Linked DNA regions of Homo sapiens: region 1 is linked to region 2. The links come from fine-mapping of genetic effects on gene expression. Tissue or cell type: thyroid. Region 2 holds a variant in brackets; the other region holds the start of a gene. All regions are shown on one strand. Distances are from middle to middle.

Region 1 (2,912 bases), 65 kb after region 2:
TGATCGTTTCCCTCTCCACACCTCTTTCTGGATGATTGGGCAGGTGTGGTGATCCTGGAGCTCTGGGCTTCCATACCTGTGTGGGACAGGGAAGCTCTCTTGGTCTCCATGGCCCAAGTGATGGCTGCGCGCTCGGTCCAGGAAGAGGGGGAGGCAAGCCCACCGTTCCCCACATTGGCCTTCCAGGAAAGGCGGTGTTGCATCCCACCTGCACTTCCTGTCTGATCCTTGAGGGCCAACCGGTCCCTCCGCTCCTGGGGAAAGCGCCTTCTGGCACTGAATCTTTTGGCTGCCACGGATGTCAGGGAGCCAACGGGACTGGGTTTTGGCTGGGTGCAGGGGAGGTTGCGTCAGGGGTACCTAAGCGGTAGCGGCGTGGGGGTGGGGTGTACTTGGTCCAAAGCTCTGGGCTCCTCTGGCGGGCCTCCCTGAATGTGGCCTGGACTCGCGCACAGGCCCTGTCTCGCAGGTTTGCAGGTGCGCTTGGCTTTTCCTCTGCTTTGTGGGGCAGGTCTCCAGTGGCCCCCGGGCGCACGCCTGGACATCACTGTCCGTCTCGTCGTCGCCCCCTACGGCCTCAAAGACACACGCTCTCTGCATGTGCTCTTGGGGGACGTCAGTGCCACGTTTGGTCACACGGGCTCCAGCTCGGACTCGCCTCTGTCTTTGCCGATGTCGCCGGAAGCTGCGTCGGGATGCCGGAGCCCCCGGGCCTTGGAGATGAAGGCAGGCCCCTGCTCCACCCAGGAAGGAGGGAGGCAGTGGGCTCATGGGTCAGTGCCGTTGCAGACGACAGCACGCCTTGCGGCCTTGGGGATCTTTCCGTGCCCCGGCGAGACCCTTTCCGCCTCACTGCATTGTAACCCCATTCCCGATCAGCCGGTGGGAGCCATCATCGGATCCCAAGAGGTGTCCGCGCAGCCCAGCCAGCACCCCGAAGGTCCTCCTTCACCGGGAACAGAAGCAGGAGACCGATCAAGGAGGTCCTGACGACAGGACTCCTATGGGTCCGACCCTGAGTCTCCCGCAGGCCCCTCTGGTAGTCCTCTTCCCACCCTCTGCCTCGGGCTGCGCCGCAGTCCCCGCCGCAACCTCCAGCACCGCCACCCCAGTCCCCGCAGCCGCCATGTCGCCGCCATTTTTTAAAGGGTCTGCAGCCTGACTCTGCGGAGTAAGGGGGCGTGGGGCGGGTGAGTCGGCCTCGCCAGTGAGCATGCGCGAGGCCCGAGCCGCCGCTGTGGTCACAGTGACCGCCACCGTTGCCCGGGGATGGGTCCTTGAGACTTGGCTAAGCAGGCACCCTGTGTGAGCTTGGTCAGAGTCGGGGCTGAGACCAGTCCTGGCCAGGGCAGTTAACAGGAAGGTCTCCGGAGGCCGGGATTCGCGGAGGGTCCATCAGGAGGAAGAAACCTCAGACAGATCTCCGGGGAGACAGCGCGGGATCCCAGCCTCAGGCGTGCGCGGACAGTGTGCGGGTGAGTCTCCCCAAAAGTGGCGCTCTTGGGATGTCGAGGACAGGTCTGCCTGTGTGTCCGTGGGCTGCTCTCTTCACCGGTGGCTTGGTAGTCGCAGAGAGCAGAACCCAGCAGGTTCTGGGGCTGCCTGGGTGTGGGCCTCAGTAAGCTTACAATCATGGCAGAAGGTGACGGGGGAGCCAGCACTTCACATGGCTGGAAGCAGGAAGAAGAGTGAGAAGTGGGGAGGTGCTATACACTTTTAACAACCAGACTCACAATAACTCACTCACTATCGCAAGAACAGCACCAAGGAGATGGTGCTAAACCATTTAAGAGAAACCGCTAGATGATCCAATTGCCTCCCAACACGCCCCACCTCCAACAGTGGGACTTATAGTTTGACTTGAGATTTGGGTGGGGACACAGATCCAAATGATATCAGTGTGTTAAAAGGAAAAGGAGATAACAGTGGGAAATGGATATTTAACTTCAATTTGTGAGTTTTTATTTTAGAGTTCTAAAATTATGTCTTATACTACCTATACAAGTGCTGGAATATTTTCTGTATTAAGTGGTAGATATATAATATCCGAATATCATACTTACCTTCTTTGACCTTGCAGTTTAAGAGGGCATTTTAAGAAAGTAAACAAACACATTGATTTTTTTTTAAAGGAGAAATTTTTCAGTAAACGATATAGGTACGTTAACATGGGCGATATAGGAAAGTTACTGATGGAGAGACAATCCTACATAGAAACCTAAGGAAGCAATTAACTCAGACACAGAGATTGAGAAGAGTAAAATGGAAAATGGGTGAAATCTGGGAAATCTGTTGCTTCCAGTAGAAGAAACATAATATTGAAGGAACAGAGATTGATGTCAAGAGTTCAGGGAAACAAACCAGAATAAGAATGTTTAGACAAAAGGCTGATGGTAGAAGGAAATTGAGACTGAAAGTTATAGAGAGCACAGGCTTACTCGAAGATTAGCAGACAAAAGAACATCTGTAAGTTCAATCATGAAGGAGTGCCAGAATTAAAGAGAAAATAAGGAAATAATAAAGGGAATCTTTTGATGTGAGGAACCAATTGGGCTATGAACTCAGCCTGCTAGCCTGCCATTCCAATGACAGTAGGAAATAAATGTTCTGTAAGTTATTTGAAAATTAGAGGACAAAGTAATTGTTTGTTCTATAGGTAGAGAAACATTTTTGTAAATGATAATACAGCTGTTCTACCAATTTCTCTTAATTTTCAAACTTTTTGAAGGGGTACACTATATTTTCACGATTTGTTCATTCTGATTTCCAACTCATATTTGTTCATCATTTTCTCTTTACTTTTTAAAAAGTTGAAAGACATTCATATCACAAAATTTTCACTGGATAATTTTTCTTGTTGCAACTGTAGATTTTTGTGGATATATACAAATCTCTCTAGTGACACATCTAGA
Region 2 (2,912 bases):
TGATCATATGGTAATCATAGTGTGCTGGAAGCATGAGTAAAGCATTCAGGCTCTTTTATTTCTTTCCCAGTCTAAGACAGCAAGGGCAGGTACCACTGCATGGGCAGTGGCAGTTGGCTGTCATTTGCCTCTGGGAGCTCCATCACAGGATAACACAGAGCCACTGGCAATAGAAATGTTCAGCTTGGGTGAGGTAGCTACTCTGCAGGCCCAAGCAAGGAGTTCTGCTTAGTGAAGGATAGGAGTTGGGAGCTCACAAGGAAGAGAGACTGGGTTCTATGCTATATGGCAGCTGTGTCATGATGAAGGTGCTAGTGAAGCAACCAGGATTTTGTTCTTTCCCCAGCCCAAGGGCAGTTTCTTAGTCCTTTTTTACACTGCTGACAAAGACATACCTGACACTGGACAATTTAAAAAAGAAAGAGGTTTAATCAATTTGTAGTTCTACATGGCTGGGGAGGCCTCAAACTCATGGCAGAAGTCAAGAAGAGGAGCAAGTCACATCTTACATGGATGACTGCAGCCAAAGAGAGACCTCGTTTGGGGAAACTCCCATTTTTAAAGCCATCGAATTTCATGAGACCCATTCACTATCATGAGAACAGCATGGGGAAGACTCACTCTCATGATTCAATCATTTCCCACTGGGTCCCTCCCACAACATGTAGAAATTATGGGAACTACAAGATGATACTTGGGTGGGGACACAGAGTCAAACCATATTATTATACCCCTGGCCCCTCCCAAATCTCATATCTTCACATTTCAAAACCAATCATGCCTTCCCAACAGTCCCACAAAGCCTTAACTAATTTCAGCATTAACTCAAAAGTCCACAGTCCAAAGTCTCATCTGAGACAAGTCAAGTCCCTTCCACTTATGAGCCTGTAAAATCAAAAGTAAGTTAGTTACTTCCTAGATACAATGGGGGTACAGGCATTGGGTAAATACAGCCATTCCAAATGGGAGAAATTGGCCAAACAACAGGGCTACACGCCCCATGCAAGTGTGAAATCCAGAGGGACAGTCAAATTTTAAAGATCCAAAATGATCTCCCAGTAACTCTATGTCTCACATCCAGGTCATGCTAATGCAAGAGGTGGGTTCCCAAGGTCTTGAGTAGCTCCCCACCCGTGGCTGTGTAGGGTACAGCCTCCCTCATGGCTACTTTCACAGGGTGACATTCAGTGTCTTAGTCTTCTCTAGGTGCA[C/T]GGTGCAAGCTGTCAGTGGATTTACCATTCTGGGGTCTGGAGGACGGTGGCCCTCTTCTCACAGCCTCATTAGGCAGTGCCCCAGTAGGGACTCTGTGTGGGGACTCCAACCCCACATTTCCCTTCCACACTGCCCTAAACAGTGGTTCTTTATGAGGGCCTCACCCTTGCAGTGAACTTATTCCTGGACATCCAGGCATTTCCATACATCTGAAATCTAGGCAGAGATTCCCAAACCCCCATTTTTGACTTCTGTGCACTCACAGGCTCAACATCAAGTGGAAGCTGCCAAGGCTTGGGGCTTGTACCCTCTGAAGCCACAGCCTAAAGTCTACATTGGCCCCTTTCAGCCATGGCTGGAGCAGCTGGGACGCAGGGTGCCAAGTCCCTAGGCTGCTCACAGCATGATGACCTTGGGCCTGGCCCACAAAACCACTTTTTTTCTCCTAGGTCACCAGGCCTGTGATGGAAGGGGCTGCCATGAAGACCTCTGGCATGCCTTAGAGACATTTTCCCTATTGTCTTGGGGATTAACATTCATCTCCTCATTACTTATGCAAATTTCTGCAGCTGACTTAAATTTCTCCTCAGAAAATGGGATTTTCTTTTCTATCACATTTTCAAGCCGCAAACTTTTTGAACTTTTATGCTCTACTTCCTTTATAAAACTGAGTGACTTTAACAGCACCCACATCACATCTTGAATGCTTTGCTGCTTAGAAATTTCTTCCATGAGATACCCTATATCATCTTTCTCAAGTTCAAAGTCCCACAAATCTCTAGGCCTGGAGCAAAATGCCACCAGTCTCTTTGCTAAAACATAACAAAAGTCACCTTTGTTCTAGTCCCCAAGATCCTCATCTCCATTGGAGACCACCTCATCCTGGATTTCATTGTCTGTATCATTATCATCATTTTAGGCAAAGCCATTCAACAAGTCTCTAGGTGGTTCTAAACTTTGCCACATTTTCCTGTCTTCTTCTGAGTGCTCCAAGCTGTTTCAACCTCTGCCTGTTACCCAGTTCTAAAGTTGCTTCCACATTTTCAGGCACTTTTCAGTAGAGCCCACTCTACTCGTACCAATTTACTATATTATTCCATATTCATGCTGCTGATAAAGACAGACCTGAGACTGGGCAATTTACAAAAGAAGGAGGTTTAATCAACTTACAGTTCCACGTGGCTGGGGAGGCCTCAAAATCATGGTGAAAGGTAAGTAGGAGCAAGTCACATCTTACATGGATGGCAGCAGGCTAAGAGAGAGCTTGTGTCAGGAAACTCCTGTTTTTAAAATCATTAGATCTGGTGAGACCCATCCACTATTACGAGAACAGCATGGGAAATACCCATCCCCATTATTCAGTCATTTCCCACCAGGTACCTCCCACAAAACATGGGAATTGTGGGATCTACAGGATGAGATTTGAATGGGGACATAGAGCCAAACCATATCAGGCAGCAAGGGTGGTACCACTGTATGTAATGGCAGAGGGGCTGTGGGTTGTCGCTGGGAATTCTATCCCAGAGAAATGCACAGATGCCACTGTCTGAAATGTTCAAGTGGGAGCAGGGTAGCTGTGCTGGGGCCCAGGTCGGGAGACCCTGCCCAGTGAGAAGTAGCAGGAGCAAAGACAGGCATGGAAAAAAGTCTGACACCTCCATAAGGCAGCTGTGCTGAGCTGAAGACCTGCTATAATCCTT

Which allele goes with the higher level. Positions count from the first base shown, and alleles are read on the strand shown. Sizes are in standard deviations (SD) of each study's normalised expression.
For the expression in thyroid of the gene that starts at base 1,246 in region 1, allele T in region 2 goes with a higher level than allele C (moderate effect, 0.62 SD a copy in GTEx).

The links. PIP is the estimated chance that this variant, and not a neighbour inherited with it, causes the effect. A credible set is the group of variants that fine-mapping cannot tell apart.
Region 1: SNHG27 starts here. The variant in region 2 is the best candidate, but not a certain one, in a credible set for the expression of SNHG27 in thyroid (GTEx, PIP 0.78).

Annotation. Positions count from the first base shown.
Region 1 is chr4:131,763,593-131,766,504 of GRCh38, forward strand. It overlaps SNHG27 (small nucleolar RNA host gene 27), which reads left to right and starts at 1,246. Exons shown (of 3, transcript NR_125884.1): 1 at 1,246-1,475.
Region 2 is chr4:131,698,239-131,701,150 of GRCh38, forward strand. The region is part of intron 4 of LINC02377 (long intergenic non-protein coding RNA 2377); the gene reads left to right. Among named protein-coding and RNA genes, the nearest start is that of SNHG27, 65 kb to the right of the region's middle. The variant C/T (reference allele first, on the strand shown) is at 1,212.